Linked DNA regions of Homo sapiens. The protein of the gene in region 1 interacts with the protein of each later gene in a biochemical or structural test. Each region holds a gene or a part of one and is shown on either strand. Other genes may lie near its edges.

Region 1 (5,410 bases):
AATATTAATCTCTTCCCTTCACTATATAATCTTTTTAAAATTTCACCTTTATATGCACTCAGATTCCACCAATTAGAGATTTATTTGCATCTATGAAGATTTTTTTAAATGGCTGGCAGTGTTAAAGGACTAACATTCGCTCATGCCTTTAAAAAAATTAGTTTAATCAGATTGCATTTATCCAAACAACTGGCCAAGATTATTTAAAATGAGAGGAGAACATTTTATAAGTTTTTTTAAATTTTAAGACAGAGTAGATACTTTTCATGAAATTCAGAAGCCTCTAGGAGAAGAGAATAATGGACCCATGTTAATTTATGCAGTAAAACATGGGTGTGTGAGGTTGGTGTGAGGAGGTGGAGAGTGTACTAGATGAATCAATGTGTACACCTGCCCATATCAAAATATTGTGCCTAGGGCTGGCCATACAACCAGATAGGGGAGGAAAATTATTTTCTTTCTTGTTCCTACTTCTAGTATTACCCTTTTTTCTCGAGATCTAGAATTCAGGTCAGTATAACTGTATTAAGGAATGATATCAGCTGCACTAGAGTTAAATAGGTTTTCGAGGTTTGTCTGGAGATATAATCACCACCTAAACCATGTGGAAGGTTATCTTTATGGAAAAATGTCTTCTGGTTTCCAAATAACACACTTCCTAATGAACTTCATGAGGCTACCCTTGAGAGTTTGAGACTGGATCAGATCCAGATGTGTGATTTATCTGTGCTAATTTAAAATTCTAAGCTGATTTTCCCAACCATCTGTGTACTTTTAGGCCATTGCTCCTTAAGGAGTTTTGTGTTTAGGTAAAACAAGCTCCGTATGGGAAAACAATTAGGGGAGTATAGATCCTTATACAATTTAATACATTAAAAAATGAAACCTGATTTTAAACATTATTTTATGTTTTAGGTTTTTATTGCTCTGAATCAAGAGATTCTTATCCCATCTCCCATTCAACCCAGGTTAGGTTACGGTATTCTGCCTCAGGTCTCAGAATTCTGTTACAAATAAGCAGACTCGTAAATCGCGTTTCTTATTTCCTTCAAGGTATTGCGCAGCGATGCACGGCCATCAAGTACCACTTTTCTCAGCCCATCCGCTTGCGAAACATTCCTTTTAATTTAACCAAGACCATACAGCAAGATGAGTGGCACCTGCTTCGTAAGTATTTCCAGGAGAGGTTCAGAGAGGAAATGGTGTCATTCTGAACAAAATTCCCACCACCCCTCTCACATCTGGACAGAAGGATGTTGTTCTTATCCTCTGTGAGCCTCTGGGCCCAATCAGATGTGGTCAGAGACTCAGAGGATCATTTCCCTATGCTGTGGACACAGTTTGCTTAAAAATAAAATGTGTGGAAACCTGGTATAAGGTCTTGTGAGATAGTCTGCCCTGGTGGCATCTGTACACAGCTGCCTACTGAATCTTTTGTTTGCCGAGTTGTTGGGTGTAAGGACCTGCTGTACCCCTTGTCTTGTAAACCAAGGAGATTATACCTTAGGGGCTCTTATTTTTGTTTTGTATATACAATATTTATTTTAGCTACTGTGTTCATCTCCGACCTTTGTATTTCTGCTAAAATACCTTTATGAGTGTATGTCATAATTTTCTCAGAGGGTGTCTACATCTCAATGAAAGGAACTATTCTTTTTCACTGTCAGGAAAATGTGAAACTCTAGAAAGCATCATGCAGTGTGAAACTAAAGAGGGCTGATATTTACCTAAAAACTGTTGATTTAAGCTGCCTGATGATAGATAGCTCCCCGAAACGAAAAACTACTGTGAATTTTTTTGGTCTTTGCCCCCATCAGAGGTTGACATTGTCATTTTCCAATGAAATAAGTAACAAGGACTTCAGGATCTTGTTTGGTGGCCAAAGCCACTGTAGAAAACTAATCAGAGTCTCTCATTCTGTAAGTAAATCTCTCTGCGGATTAAAAGGCTCTGTTCTGAATCTCAAACACATAAATGGAAGCTCTTATGATATTGCCAGAGCAGTGGTCTAATATACATATTATGGCAGGCAACTTTAAGACTTAATCATCTTTCCAGAGAGCCATGTAGTTACTGGCTCAGGTCAGGGGAGAAAAGATCATCATAGGAGCCTGAAAAAGAACCTTAGCTCTTTAATAGTTTGTACCTTGTGATTGCCCAGCAAGGCAGTATTTGAAGATTCTTCTTTTAATCCTTTTTGGAGTTCTCATGGAAAGATGCTTTTAGCAGTCTCATGCATGTCTATTTCTAAGAAAGTCACACTTGGTGATCTGTAGCACATTTACTATATAAGCTTAACATGACTGGTACTAATGCAAATCCCATGTGGATTATATCTGAACCTTGTGCCTTTTCAGAGTCACAGAAAATAGACTATCACTCAAACCATAGGAAATTTGGGAGGCTGTAAGATAATGGTGACTGAACCATACTACATTTCCCCTGCTCAGATGTGGCTGTCTCAAAAACTACTTATACCCTTAACATTAAACTCAGCGTCTTTAAATTATCACTGCTCCTGGCCCCTTATTCATTGGTGTCCACATTTCTTCTTCTAGGCAGAAATACTCTCTTTTAATTTGGATGCTCTGAGTGGGAAATGAGAAATCCCTCTTTAAAAAAGGGATGGTCTCTCTGTGGCTAAGGTGCTAAGAGCAAGACTGGAAGCTACTGTAATCCATCCTCCATGAAGCCGCCCCTAAGCTGCCCAGGAGCCACACAAACACACAATAAAGTGATGGCTGCATGGGCACTTTCACTTTAGCAGAGCAGCCCACACTTCGAACAGTGTGATCTGCACCTTGTCTTGGCCCCATGTGTACACAGGTGTGGATGATCCACGTGCATTTGCCCAGACCTGTTACCTGGCCTTGGGGGCAGCAGATGTATGCTTGGGATGTGTTGTTTTAAGAAGGGTGATTGAAATTTAGCGAACAATTTTTAAAGTTAGTTTTGTTAAAAAAAATCCTTTGAGATGGAGCTGCAAGGTAAATAGAAAAGATTCAAAAGCATTTTTTAAAAAAAGAAGGAAGAAAATAGAAAAAGTAAAATAGCTGGAAGGTAGGCAAGGTGAGTGCTGGTTTAGCAGTTGGAGGCAACTTGTGTCCAGGTACACGTAGTCAGCCTACCTCTTGGTTTTGTCAGGCATGTGGGGAAAGAGCTGGATTTCTGGCTCAGTGATCACAGTTGTGTTTTTGCAATAGACCAAACTAGACAGTTGGGCCACTGTATAGTGGAGATTATGTAGTGGAGACTCATCCTATTGGACTAGTACTTCCTTCACCTGGGTAAATGGATGCCCAGGTTGTGGGATCTATGCTTTAGGGGAGAAGGCATTTCTGAGCAGATGTTTCAGAGGAAAGGGTGTTTATGAGCACATGTATCCTGTGTGCACTTTACACCACTGTTCCACTCACCACAATTGCCTTCGCTTTCTCAAATTGTTTTTGAAAATAGGCAGGAGTAGATGTAAATGAAGAAGTAAATAATTGGCATCTGTGGTGATCAGATAAAACCCTATTTCACAATAGCTTTTTTAGGCTCTTTCTCCAAAGCTAGATTAAGTACAGCCACTACCAGGGTAGTAACCTACATTTCTTTTTTTTCCCCTTTTAAAATTTCAATAGTTTTTGGGGTACAGGTGGTTTTTGGTTAACCTACATTTCTATTGTTCTGTTAAGGCTAACAGATATTTCTCAGACCCACCTCACTCTTTGTTTAAGTCATTTGACATCTGTTACTCAGGTCTATCCTGGGCTTGTCCTCTAGTCTATTCTCCACTTAGTGTGGACTTCTCCACGGACTCAGAGACGGTATAGTCTGACCCTCCATTGGTTACACCCCATCAGTCCTCTTATGGAATACCTGGGAAGAGTATTCCCTATGCCTCCTTGTCCTGTGGGCTCTAAGCCTGTCCATGTAACTTACTAATTTTCACAATGTATACAAAGCCCTAATTCTCTAATTCTTAATGACTTTCCTGAATTCTGATTGTGAATGTCTGTGTCTGTTTTGAGATTAGATTTAAGAAGAATCACTGCTGGCTTCCTCGGCATGGCCGTAGCCGTCCTTCTCTGCGGCTGCATTGTGGCCACAGTCAGTTTCTTCTGGGAGGAGAGCTTGACCCAGCACGTGGCTGGACTCCTGTTCCTCATGACAGGTAGGCTGCATGCCTCAGGCCGTCTGTCCCAGCCAAGGTGAAGGCTGCTCTGCATGCGGCTAGCTAGTGTCGCTTTGTTATCTCCCTGTTAATTTTGTTTTCACTGTTAGAAAAGCAACCAGAAGGTCATTTTGGCTTTGCTGGAAAATACAGAATTTAAGGAAAACAACAGTGTGAGAAATGCATCCTCTATATCCCCATTGTGGCCTGTTAGTAGGTTGGATGGAAGTGTCTTGGGTTTAATCTCTATATGAGCCCAGTCTGTTTTTTTGCTGTACTTTCTTTTTTCTTTTTTGTTTTTTTGAGATGGAGTCTCACTCTGTCACCCAGGCTGGAGTGTAGTGGTGCGATCTTGCCCCACTGCAACCTCTGTCTCCTGGGTTCAAGTGATTCTCCTGCCTCAGCCTCCTGAGTAGCTGGGACTACAGGCATGTGCCACCACACCTGGCTAATTTTTGTATTTTTAGTAGGGTTTCACCATGTTGGCCAGGCTGGTCTCGAACTCCTGACCTCAGGTGATCTGCCTGCCTCAGCCTCCCAAAGTGCTGGGATTACAGGCAAGAGCCACCACACCCCACCTTCTGTTCCTTCTTTCATACTGTGCCCCAAACCCTGGCCTGGACTCTTGGCAAACATGGACCATTGCTTATGAGGTGCCCTCAAAGACAGAGGGGGATAGATCAGCACAACCCATGCCCCGCTGGATGTCAATTCAAAGCATGCTTTAGTGATGGTGTCATTTTTACATACACAACACTCATTCATTTTAGTCCACAGATATCTTTTGAGGACTTACTATGTACGAGGCACTGCTGTGAGTGCTAAAGACACACAATGAATAAGGCAGGCAAAATTCTTGTTCATTTTTATTGTGGAGAGACATAAACAATGATTTGTGGTAGTGATAAAAGCTGTGAAGAAAAGAAACAGGGTGAAACAGGGACTCAGGGAAGATCTTGCTGAGGTGGCGATTTCGCAGCTAATTCGTGAGAAGCAGCCGGTGGTAGGAAGAGCGTAGCAGACTGGGGAAACCGCCAGTGCCAAACCTGAGAGAAGCGGCCAGTGGGGCTGGAGGGAGTGAGGGACAGGATAGTATCACATGAGGTGGGGGAAGTGGGCAGTGGCCAAAGCGTCAGGGTTTTGTTGGTCATGGTGGAGAGCTTGGATTTGAAGCTAAGGGTGACAAACGCCACTAGAAGGTTTGAAGCAAAGGAGTGACTTGATTTTTTTTTTTTTTTTTTTTTTTTTTTG
Region 2 (4,254 bases), on another chromosome or scaffold:
AGCCATGTGACCCTGGGCAAGTTACTCAGCCTCTCCTGACCTCAGCTTCTTCATCTGTGAACTGGGAGTTAGAACAAATGACCACAAAGTTCTGTTCCGTTTTCATCATCTGTAACTCTCTAAGACAGCGCTGTCCAGCAGGACTTCCTGCCGTGGTGAAATGTTCTCTGACTGCACTGTCTCATACGGGAGCCACTGGCCGCATATGGCTAGTGAGCATGTGAAGTATGGCTGGTTTCTTGTCTTAATTTATTTAAATTTAAGTAGCCACATATAACTAGTGGCTACCATACTAGACAGTGCAGCTCCACGATACAGAAGAAACTATATTCGATAGAGGAAAATGTAACAAGATCTCAGCGTGGCAGTTCATGGATGTCACAGGCAAATCATGCCAACTAGGAATAATATAAATTCTCCTGAACGCACAACAACAACAGTCCTGTTTCCTTTGAGGAGGCAAGAGTCCTATGAAGCAGAACCATCCGCAGAAGTGAGACAGAAGGAAAAAAGCTTTCAGAAGGGATGGGCTGTGCATCTGCATGAGCTTGCCTGGCAGAGCCTGGTTCAGTAATGAAACCACCAGAGGAGCTGGACACATTTCCCTGTCACCCTTCTAAAGCAGCGGGGAAGGGAGCAAAGTTTTCAGCAGTTTCCAGATCCACCCTGCCTCCTATCCCTTTTCCCCAAAACCATGTGACAGTGTCTAGGCCAGATGCGGTCAGGGGTGGTCAGTGGGCCCTGGGTGTACTCAAATCCCGCTGACAACCTATGCAGCTGAGGTTCCAGGGAAACATACAGCCCCCAGCTGCCAGGCCCCTACAGTCAGTAGTGTTTGCTCTAATAAAATATTAACCCAGTTATTAATATCTCCTCCTTCCCCATGATGAAGGAGTTTATCCGAGAACAATCCGGCACAAAGCTACCTGACCCAGAAGTCATCCAGTTCTGTGTCTCCATCTTCAAATGCTCCAGGCTCCTGCTCACCTGACGGCGTTGATCAGCAGCTCTTAGATGACTTCCACAGGGTGACCAAAGGGGGCTCCACCGAGGACGCCAGCCAGTACTACTGTGACAAGGTGAGCGAGCGCAGGCAGCCGGGTGATCCACACACCCAGGGCTTCCCGGCCTCTTGTGGGCAGCTGAGTAGCTCTAACTAAATGAAAATATCTTATCACCAACTGCTGGAGAGAGATGTGATGCAAATGACCACTTTCAAACCGTTTTCCAGAATGATAATGGTGACAGCTACTTAGTCTTGATCCGTATCACACCAGATGAAGATGGAAAATTTGGATTTAATCTTAAGGTATGTTGTGTATTTATAAAGGAAGTTTTGTGCTGGGAAGCAATCTTTCAATGAGTTTTTAATTTGCATTACAAATGTGCTGCATTCCTGAGCTACATAAGGAAGTTGGTTCAACCCTCAGAATTGAGAGTTGGGGGTTTTTTTTGTTTTTGTTTGGTTTGAGATATTTGGGGTTTTTTTTGTTTTTTTTTAAAAACTCACTTTATCGCCCAAACCTAGAGTGCAGTGGCACGATCGCAGCTCACTGCAGCGCTGACCTCCCCAGGCTCAGGTGATCCTCCCACCTCAGCTGGGACTATAGGGATGCACCACCATACCCAGCTAATTTTTTTCATATTTTTTGTAGAGATGGGGTTTCACCATGTTGTCCAAGCTGGTCTCAAACACCTGGCAATCTACTCACTTTGGCCTCCCAAAGTGCCGGGATTACAGGCGTGAACCACCGCACCCAGCCTAGAATTGAGAGGTTTTTTTTAATGTGGCCTTAACAGCTGCCGAAGGCCAAGTGCCTGCTCTGTGCCTGGCATTGGCTATCCACTAGATTCATAGCACCTTCTTAAGTTCTGATAACAAGTGGTAAGGTCAGTATTTTTAAACCCATTTTGCAAATGAATACTGAGGTTCCCAGAAATGAGGGCACACAGTTGGCAAACAGATCTACCCACTTCAGGAATGCTATTAAGAGAACCCCTCAGCATTGCTAAAGCTGATAAGAGAAAAACAATTCAAGTTCAACCTGCAGGGCCACCACTCTCCTCCAGGCACCTTTAAGCAGGATCTGCAAACTAAACCCACAGGCCAAATCCCATCTGTTTCTGTAACTAGTTTTTTTGGTAACAGCCACAGCCATTTGTTTACTGGTGGGTTAATGACTGCAGAGTTGAGCAGTTGAATCAGAGCCCTCACTCCCACAAAGCCTCTCTGGCCCTTTACAGAAAACGTTTACTCATCCCTACTCTAGGACAAAGTGAGGGCAGGTGGTCGCCTACCCCCCAGCTGCCATCATGCACAGCCTCATCTGCCCCAGCAGCTGTGTTGAGGACCAGCGCTCACAGGCCAGATGCGCTCACAGGGTGTGCCCCCTTCCCAGGCCTCGCTCGCCTCTGCTGAAAGCCCCTATATATATATATATAAAGCCCATATATATATATATTAAAGCCCATATATATATATAAAGCCCATATATATATATATATATATATTTTTTTTTTTTTTTTAATTATTATAAGTTCTAGGGTACATGTGCACAACGTGCAGGTTTGTTCTAGCAGCACTCGAAGACATGCTGTGGAGTCCCTCTCTGGGGGCATCTGCGTTTTTAAGGAGGAGCTTCTCTCTGAGTGTATCTGTTAGTTCATGGACTGTGGGGATGGCAGAGGGAGGCTTCTGAACAGAGTCCTGGTCAGCCCGCTGGATCCAGAGGGGTCAGGAATTTGTTCCATATTTCTGAAATGACGTGTGATTCGAATCAGTCATAGTGAAGTTTGAAGCCTCCCTGTACCAAAGACTCACATTTATTGGTACCTCCATGTTGTTGATGCTGTGAGCTACTCGTTTTTTTGTTTGTTTGTTTGTTTAACTTAAAAAACTTTGTTTTGTTTTTATTTTAAAATGTTTACAGGGAGGAGTGGATCAAAAGATGCCTCTTGTGGTATCAAGGATAAACCCAGAGTCACCTGTAAGTAAATACATTCCATGTTATTCCTCGTGTTTGTTTGTTTCCCCCTAATTCTAACAGGTTTCTGTTTCTGAGTCCTGTTTCTTTTTTTGCCAGAGCAAAGAATGTGCTTAGATATACATCACCATGTTTTCTATAACCTTGCGGCTCAGTGTGGTCTTTGAAGCCATAGCACCCATGTTACCTGGGACCTCATTAGAAATGCAGCATCTCTGGCCTCAGCTTAGGCCTGCTGAACCGGAATCTGCATTTTTAACAAGAGCCTTGAGTGGTTAGTGTGCATTCAATTTTGAGAAGTCCTTTTCAAGAGAAGGAAACTTAGGCAGTCTGCTGTTCTGCTCACTCTAAGTGGGCACGTGGGCCCTGTGCCTCTTCTCACCATCTTTCCACCAGTGCCCCTTTTGTCATCTGTGTAGGCCTCCTAAGAAGAGCATTTGCTTTGTTTTTCTTTCAAATTTATTTTATTGTTTTTAGGCCAGGCATAGTGGCTCACACCTGTAATCCCAGCACTTTGGGAGGCCGAGGAGGGTGAATCACTTGAGGCCAGGAGTTTGAGACCAACCTGCCTGGCCAACAGGGTGAAACCCATCTCTACAAAAAATACAAAAATTATCTGGGTGTGGTGGCACACAGGTGTGATCCCAGCTACTCAGGAGGCTGAGGCAGGAGAATTCCTTGAACCCAGGAGGCAGAGGTTGCAGTGAGCTGAGATCACGCCGCTGTACTCCAGCCTGAGCGACAGAGTGAGACTCTGTCTCAAAAATAAAATAAATTTATTTTATTGTTTTTAAAATAATATCAAGTAATTTTTTCGTTTAATTTTTTTATTGTGCATACTCAAGGTGTACAACATGATGTCTTGTTATACATATAGTACTGCAGTCAAACAAATTAACATGTTCATCACTTTCCATAGTTAACCTATTTTTCTTTTTTAAGAGACAGGGTCTCGCTCTTGCTCTGTCACCCAGGCTGGAATGCAGTGGTATGATCACTGCAGCCTCAAACTAGGCTCAAGCGATCCTCCTGCCTCTGCCTCCCAAGTCGCTGAGACCACAGGTGTGTCCCACCTCACCTGGCTCCATAGTTACCTTTTAATCATCTGCTTTTTTAAAGCAGTAGGAGTCACTGTGCCTCCTTACAGTGAACCACGTTGGGATTTTACTCTGAGGTAGTCCTTAAGCTCTTGTCATTTAACTTTTGTTACTGTTTACAGTTTCTGTAAATTCAGAAGGCTTTCTTTCCTGTGCTGTTCAATTCATTGCTT
Region 3 (3,588 bases), on another chromosome or scaffold:
TGAATTACTGCAACAGCACCATGCAGGGATAACTCGCCGATTGGCCTTCCACCTGCCAGGCTGCACATGCTCACCAGCCCAGGGCATGGCCCCTCCCAGAACCTGGTCCTTGATCCAGCCTCATGCCCTCCACTGAAATATGTTGGGAACACCCCACTCTTTCCCCTATATTCATGACATGTTCATTCCCCGTGAAATGTGTATTCTTTACCTCTGTCATCCATTCTTAATTCCAACTTCTATGTGAGCTGAATATAGAACTTGGAATTAACTTCATTAACTTGCATGTTCACATTGGTAACGAGCTTCATAATATTGTTATCATAGGGAAAGGCAAATTGGGGAAATTGACTGGTTCCCAGGACTTCATTTGGGTCTTCCTTGTCTCCATTGGATAAACCAACTTAAATAATATATCTTTTGTTTTCCTACCAACTCGTATATCTATAGAGTTTCTGCATCTCTTTTTAAATCAGTAAAGTCCCAGAATGGGCTTTCCACTAGATCAGCAATATGGACACTTTCCCATTCTGACATAATATAATATATCTGCTTGCTGGGCTCTAAGCACATGAAATAATTTTTTCGAGTGAAAACTTGACCAACAAAAATGCTCGATTGACTCTCTTGAATCTTTCTAATTCTATCCTTATTTGCTAGGGAGCGTTCTCCATCACCACTGACCGGGAAAGTCAATCAGCTGGAATTAATTCTTCGACAACTCCAGACCGACCTTCGGAAGGTAATCAATTGGAAGAGCATAATCAGAACTGTTTCTCTTATAAAATCAGCCCCTTATAACTACTACAGATAAATTGAAAAGACTCAGGAAAGAAAACTGCCTTACACAAAAACCAATGATAAATACCAACAGATGCTCCTGAGGTCTCACTCCATCTGCTGACCTGCAGCTGATGTATTTCATTTTGTGGGATGCAGGGATCTCAATGGATATGAGTAAATGAGGATGAGCCCTTGGTGTGGCAAATCTTCAGTGTGTAGTAGAAGCATGGTGGGCCAGCATTTTTTAGTTCAGTGAGTTATCAGTTGCGCCAACTCTGTATGAGATGACCTCAGAGGAGTCCATTGCTGCCAGAAAGCCTGGTCTCTATGAGTCCTGTCCTCTGTCTTGAATCAGCTTCACAGCCCTTAGAACTTCTGCTGTACACATCAACCTGCACATGGTCTGTCCTCAAAAGAAATTAAATTCTGTATCCCACAAATACTTGGCTGAGCTCTGTTCCATCAGCCCTGTGCTGGAGAGCCAGTTGGCTGTCCAGGGAAACGGAATGGGGTGCGGTAGCAAGCGGGAGGGCATCACAGGAAGGTTTTTGTTGTGATGGTTTGGTTTGGTTTGGCTTATGAAGAAGGGAGAAATTGTAGCTGGTGAGAATGCTGAGGAAAGGATTCAGTTGGGAGGGAAATTATGATGAGGGTGAAGAGCAAGTGGGTGGAGTTCTGATCTAGTCACAAGGAGGGAGCTGGCCTTGGATAGGAGTAGGGACAGCTCATACATAGTTACCAGAGTGGAGCAGAGTATGTGTGCACATGTGTGTGTTCATATATGCACATGTTCATTCACATACACAGGGTCCAGACAGAGATGTTGGCAAATTTCTCTGATTGTTTCTTTTCTTTCTAGTCATGAGCTAAGAGTGGTGGGAGTATAAGAGTTTTGTGGATAGCGGATATGGGTGCACCACAGCGTGTAAACCAACCGGGTTTAGGAGACTTGCCCAAAAAAAGCTAAAGCACGTTTGAATTTGGAGCATAAATTAAAGCGATACCTGTTTTCCTGGTCGTGTGTTTTTTCCCCAGCTTGGGTGACCAGCTGTCCCAGTTTGCCCGGGATGGAGAAGTTTTCTAGGATGTGGAAGTTTCCATATTAGAACCGGCAAAGTCCCATGCAAGCTGGGATGGCTGGTCACCCTATCTCCAGCTGCAAGTGTAGAACCGTTGGAGAGTTGAATTTAGCCAATATTAAAGTTTAGACGGGAAATCAAGACGAGAGAGAGAGAGAGAGACAAGGACCCTGGGGCGTGTACAGGGCATGAATAAACCAAAGAACCTGGAGTCCAGGCTGGTTGAAGAGAAATAATGTCACTGCTGGGGAATGGCTGGGTTGGAGGTGTTGGTGGACAGTGAAAATAAGAGTAAGATTGATAAGATTGATGGAGTCTATCATTACTGGAGGAGTGGATACTGGAGAAATTATTTTTAAAAGACTGGAGGTGGTGGTCAAGAAGTAGGAACTTGAAACTTTTAGGAAGAGGTGCAGTCATTGACAATAGCATGGTATAGGATGTGGTCATGGGAGTGGGGGTTGAGGAGGGTGGGGTTTGAAGATCACTGAGAGAAAGCGATGGAGAGGCTGAACGGCCAGAGTGTCAGATGGAATATCTCAGTGGATTCGAAATCATCAACACAGATGACAGGAGTGGGATGGGGAGAAAAGAGCAAACCAGGTTCTAGAATCTTCCCGTAATGATGGTTGGAACTGGGGATACAGTAGATAATTGCAGCCAGGAGGGGTAGCAGGTCTCATGACCTAATGGCACGTTTTTTAGAGGAGCTGGAATTGTAGGAAGTAGTGGAGATCTGGCCTGAACAATAGAGGATGCACTGTCTGCCTGCCCGACCCCCATAGTGAGCTGCTGGGGACGGTCTCCTCGGGAGGGAGCCAGGATTCACTTAGAGCACGAAGACGAAAGGAATTTCAGGAGAGACTGAGCGTGCACAAGGTCTTCTTGGCAGAATCCAAGTTCATGGATCACAATAAAAGGTTTGCAGGGATGTGGAGAGGTGGGCAGCCGAGTCGCAGCAGAGATGTGCTGAGCTGTGGGACTCAGACTGTCTTGGGACTGAGAGTCGTGGTGAGGAATGTCCGGGGAGAGTCAGTATCCAGGGTGGGCTGCAGCTGCTTCTTAGAGTGAAGTGAGTCTATCCAGGGTGGGCTGCAGTTGCTCCTTACAGCAAAGTGAGTGGTCAGCTCTGATTCAGGCCTCCTCTGAGGACCAGTGTCTTTTGGGCCAGTGACCAGGCAGGTGGTATTGAGGAGGGCCTTGGAAGGGCTCAGGAAACGAGGAAGCCTTGAGGGCAGGACCAGATATGCCAAGGGTGGGGGCGTCCACTCACCTCACTCAATGCTCCTGCACAGTGCTGGGGGTGGCATGTGGTGGCTGTAGTGGTTGAGTTAGATCCCGTTACAGAAATACCGATTATTACAATCTGACAGTGACCCCTCTATTCATTTAGGGCAAGGCATCCCTTTCAGCAGGGGGGGAACTGAAACTGCTGCTATACATTTTTTTATTGCTACATGTTGGAAACTCCAGATGTGATTCTTCTGAAAGTCTTGATTATTTTTACACAGTTTTTAATAGCAGATTTTAAGGGTCATTATGGAAATATAGTATAGCAGGAAAGCTTGATGGAATGAAAGACCTAAGTACATATTTTATTATAAACATATGTAACAGCTCTGCTAATTCCAATTTTCTACTTAGAAAGTTTTGTGCATTTGTCAAAAGGGTATTACCTTTAACCTCCCTGTAGTCTCCCTTTTTTGGATAGAGGGTAATATAAACT
Region 4 (4,254 bases), on another chromosome or scaffold:
CTGGGATTACAGGCGTGAGCCACCGCGCCCAGCCAATCTTAATCTTTTTTAGCAGAGAATTGCACTTCACAAAGAAAGGAAAGAAAATGTTGCACAGAACCCCCTTATATATAACAGAGGGATGAAGCTGCTCTGAAGTTGTGCTAGATCACCTCTCCCTGCTCTCTGTCCCTGGTGGTGTTCCTGGAATCACTTCTTCCCCCAGCATTTTGATATTCTCTGCAAAGTTGTTAGGGAGGGTGACAATACCTCAAATTTGGGCTGTACACATTTACAAAATCCATTCACTATGTCACCCCAGCAGGTCCCCAGCATGCCCTGTGGGGCAGGCAGGGTGTCAGGCATTCCACCACCACTGAATAGACCTCAGTCTCAGGTTATCTGACTTCAGGATGTTCCATTTCCCTTCCCTCCTCTCCCCCAACCCTAGGCGCTACCAGTCTAACTGGGCTGGGCTTCCCTAGGTGAGCAGCAGGCCATGAGACAGGCTGACAGTACATCTGACCCTGACACCCAGGTTGCCCCCATCCTTGCCATCCTCACTCACATTTAGTGACACACTATGCCAGGTACTAGGCTACGCTCTTTATATTTCTTACCTTCCCTTAATCCTCATAATAACCTTGTGAGATACTAAGAATCAGTATTGCCAGTTTTAGATGAAGAAATTGAGGCCCAGAGAGGTTAAGGAACTTGCCCAAGGACACAAAACCAGGAGGTAGTAGAGCTGGATCCTGCAGCCAGGGCTCTTGGCTATGCTATCAAGACTCCACAGCAGGGGGTCTCCTTCATGTTGAAAATGACTCCTCCCTGACATGTTGCACTGAGATTTTCTAGAAATTGGACTCATATTCTTTACAGAGGCAGCTTGGGATGATAGAATGAATGGATTTGGAGATGTATTCCCACTTACTAGCTCTGTCTGAGCCTCAGTGACCTCAAGTGTAAAGAGGGAATAATGTGAAGACCGATTCAGATGACAGATGCTATGTGCCTCGTTACCCCTAAAGGGGAGGAAGATTCCTTATGGAGAAGGTATTATCTTTTTTTTTTTTTTTTTTTTGAGATGGAGTCTTGCTCTGTTGCCCAGGCTGGAGTGCAGTGGTACGATCTCGGGTCACTGCAAGCTCCGCCTCCTGGGTTCACGCCATTCTCCTGCCTCAGCCTCCTGAGTAGCTGGGACTACAGGCACCCGCCACCACACCCAGCTAATTTTTTGTATTTTTTTAGTAGAGATGGGGTTTCACCACATTAGCCAGGATGGTCTCGATCTCCTGACCTCATGATCTGCCCACCTCAGCCTCCCAAAGTGCTGGGATTACAGGCGTGAGCCACCATGCCCAACCGGTATTATCTTTTGAAGGCCTCACTGGCAGGATGGCTCCAGGGCAGGGCTGTGGAGGGTTTTATCTCTTCTTCCTTCAACAACATGGATGGATCCTATCTACCTGGTCCCTACTCACCCCCAGCACAGGGATTTCCAGCTCACCCAGCTCTGAAGGGTGGGTCACCTGGGAGTGGAAGGTGCAGAGTGGGAGCCACAGGCTGCCCCAGGCGGTCCAGGGGAACCAGGTGGGAAAGAGAGACTGGAGATGGGGCCAGGGTCTTAGGCCCTAAGGAAAACCTTCCTCTCCAGGTTGAGGCTGGAGTATGGGGTGGGGGGCAGAGGCGGGGTGTGGGTGCAGGGACTGCCTCAATGCAGTCCATCCTGCCCATACTGAGCTCAGGAATGGGGAGGGAGGCTGTGCTGACATGCTTCCTAGGGTTGGGGGAATGAGGCCTCTTTGCTGAGGAGCAGACTGAAATGTGGTGAGGCTTCTGGAACCTCACTCACTGGAAGAGGAAGCCAGCTGGACCTTGCCTGCAGGGTGCAGCTGGGTCTGCCCTGGCTAGGTGTTGAGGGCCCAGGCGGGAGAGGGCTGTGGGTAAGCAGTGGCAATGCTTTTTCTGTGCTGTGAGCCCAAAACGTTTTTCTGCTCTCAGGGAGCTGGAGGAGGGGGTGATAGAAGTGAGGTGGTGCATTCTCTTCCCTGTGCTCTGACTGCCTGGGCAATCTTTAGACAGTCACTCAGACACACTCTCAGCTTCCACCAAAGCGATGTGGGAGTACAGGGGTCCCCCAAGGCAGCCACGGGCCAAGTGAGCAGCTACTTCTAGGCTGTGTCACCCTAGAGTCTCTGCCCAGCACCCTCTGAATGACTCCTTCAAGATCCCCCACCCTAATCAAACCAAGACGGAATTGCCCCCCAATACAAATCAAGCCAAGCTGTTTTTCAAGAAAGTAATTGTAGCTAAACCTGAAACCTGAACCTGAAAACCCAGCTACCAGGTCACCTGTTTTGTCCTGAGGGCTGACCTAGGTCCAGGTTCAGCAAACTTATGCCAAGGGAGGTATTTCAGATGTCAAATCACTGGTCAGAGTGCAACTGAAAGCATCTTGCAGTCAAAGGCGAGGTGACCCACTCCCACCTCTCCCCGCCCAGGTACCCCCACCCCCACTCTGCGTCTTATGCAGGCCTTGGGCAGTCAAGGCCTGGCGGAGCCCCACCCTGCACAGCTGCAAATATTTATAGCCATGTCCCTTTTCCAGCCCTGTCGAGGGTTCTGCTGTGCTTGCTCCCTAGCTCTGTGAACACCCTGCTGAGAATTCAAATCTGGGCCATCAAGAAGTTCAGGAACAAGTCTCCCAAAAAAACTGAAATTGTACTGCTCTAATGTTAAAGTCACCTTTTGCATTTCTCTGGCTAGGAGTGAGGGGAACTGGGAAGAATGAATTCCTGACACACCTTTCTTTGGGTTTTTTTTGGCTTTTGCAGTGCCTGCATCTACCTACAGCCCGTCCCCAGGGGCCAATTACAGTCCCACTCCCTACACCCCCTCCCCTGCCCCTGCCTACACCCCCTCCCCTGCCCCTGCCTACACCCCCTCACCTGTCCCCACCTACACTCCATCCCCAGCACCAGCCTATACCCCCTCACCTGCCCCCAACTATAACCCTGCACCCTCGGTGGCCTACAGCGGGGGCCCTGCGGAGCCTGCCAGCCGTCCACCCTGGGTGACAGATGATAGCTTCTCCCAGAAGTTTGCCCCGGGCAAGAGCACCACCTCCATCAGCAAGCAGACCCTGCCCCGGGGAGGCCCAGCCTACACCCCAGCGGGTCCTCAGGTGCCACCACTTGCCAGGGGGACCGTCCAGAGGGCTGAGCGATTCCCAGCCAGCAGCCGGACTCCACTCTGCGGTCACTGCAACAATGTCATCCGGTATGGTCCAGCTGTGCCCCTGCACTGGGGCACTGGAAGGGCGTGTGTGTGGGGTGCTTGCCCACAGTCTGAGCCCTGGTTGGGAGAGATGGGGGTAGGAGGCAGGTGTAGGGAGAAAGCCTCGGGTCCTTCTGGCTTGCCATCTGGTCTTACCTCTCTGAGCCTTAGCTGCCATACCTGTGTGACACCCACTCTCCCAGGGAGCTGGGAGGAATGGCATGAGGTATGTGGGTGAAGCTCCAGCAGGATGCCTGGTGCCAGGAACTCCCCCTTGGGCTAAGGTTGAGGTCTGGGAATCACCAGGCTTGTCAGTAGGTTTACAGGGCATTTTGTTAGACAGTGTTGGTTTTGACCCAGTTTTCCTTTAGGGTTGTTTCTGGGTCTTTCCACAGACAGGCCTGGGCTGCTCAGGGGGTTGGTGGGCATCTGCCAGACTAAAATGAAAACAAGTGATTTCATACTTAGAAGCCATGGACCATGGGTGCTGTTGTTTGAATACAGTATGTTTGTGTGCATGTGTGGTGTGAGCTTATATACGTGAAAAATACACTTTTATTTAAAACTAAAGTAATACATACTCATTAGTGAAGAATTGGAAAACACAGAAAAGTAAAAATTAGAATATAAAAAAATGTCTTCATAGTCCCACTGTTCTGACTGCTAACCTGGAACTAGACAATACAAGTTTGTATCCTGGTCTACCACTTACTAGCCCTATGGCCTTAAACAAGTTGTTCAAACTCTGTGTGCCTCAATTCCCCTATCTAAAAATGGGTATTATAATAGTACCTAGTGCGTAGGATTGTTGTGAGAATTAAGCAAGTTAATAAATGCAAAAGTCTTCTTGAATAGAGCCTGACACAGAGTAATCACTTAATAAATGTTAGCCATCAGCATCATCATTATTGCATTTCTTACTATCATTATCAGTGGTCAACTGAATTCTATAATATGTTTACCCAGTCCCCTATTGGTAGATGTTTGAGTTGCTTC

Evidence for each region. Proteins that work in one complex are often made in the same cells at the same time.
Region 2: the proteins of TMEM178A (region 1) and PTPN3 interact in a test that uses a peptide from one of them, tested with the Homo sapiens proteins (one large-scale study listed by IntAct).
Region 3: the proteins of TMEM178A (region 1) and SIPA1L2 interact in a test that uses a peptide from one of them, tested with the Homo sapiens proteins (one large-scale study listed by IntAct).
Region 4: the proteins of TMEM178A (region 1) and LDB3 interact in a test that uses a peptide from one of them, tested with the Homo sapiens proteins (one large-scale study listed by IntAct).

What each region holds. Positions count from the first base shown.
Region 1 is NC_000002.12:39,703,028-39,708,437, forward strand, and holds part of TMEM178A (transmembrane protein 178A isoform 1 precursor), read left to right. Parts: intron 1-1,053; coding exon 1,054-1,167; intron 1,168-4,021; coding exon 4,022-4,159; intron 4,160-5,410. UniProt on the Homo sapiens protein: Acts as a negative regulator of osteoclast differentiation in basal and inflammatory conditions by regulating TNFSF11-induced Ca (2+) fluxes, thereby controlling the induction of NFATC1.
Region 2 is NC_000009.12:109,407,054-109,411,307, reverse strand, and holds part of PTPN3 (tyrosine-protein phosphatase non-receptor type 3), read left to right. Parts: intron 1-892; coding exon 893-1,079; intron 1,080-1,231; coding exon 1,232-1,309; intron 1,310-2,930; coding exon 2,931-2,987; intron 2,988-4,254.
Region 3 is NC_000001.11:232,399,546-232,403,133, reverse strand, and holds part of SIPA1L2 (signal-induced proliferation-associated 1-like protein 2), read left to right. Parts: intron 1-660; coding exon 661-742; intron 743-3,588.
Region 4 is NC_000010.11:86,713,511-86,717,764, forward strand, and holds part of LDB3 (LIM domain-binding protein 3), read left to right. Parts: intron 1-2,816; coding exon 2,817-3,261; intron 3,262-4,254. UniProt on the Homo sapiens protein: May function as an adapter in striated muscle to couple protein kinase C-mediated signaling via its LIM domains to the cytoskeleton.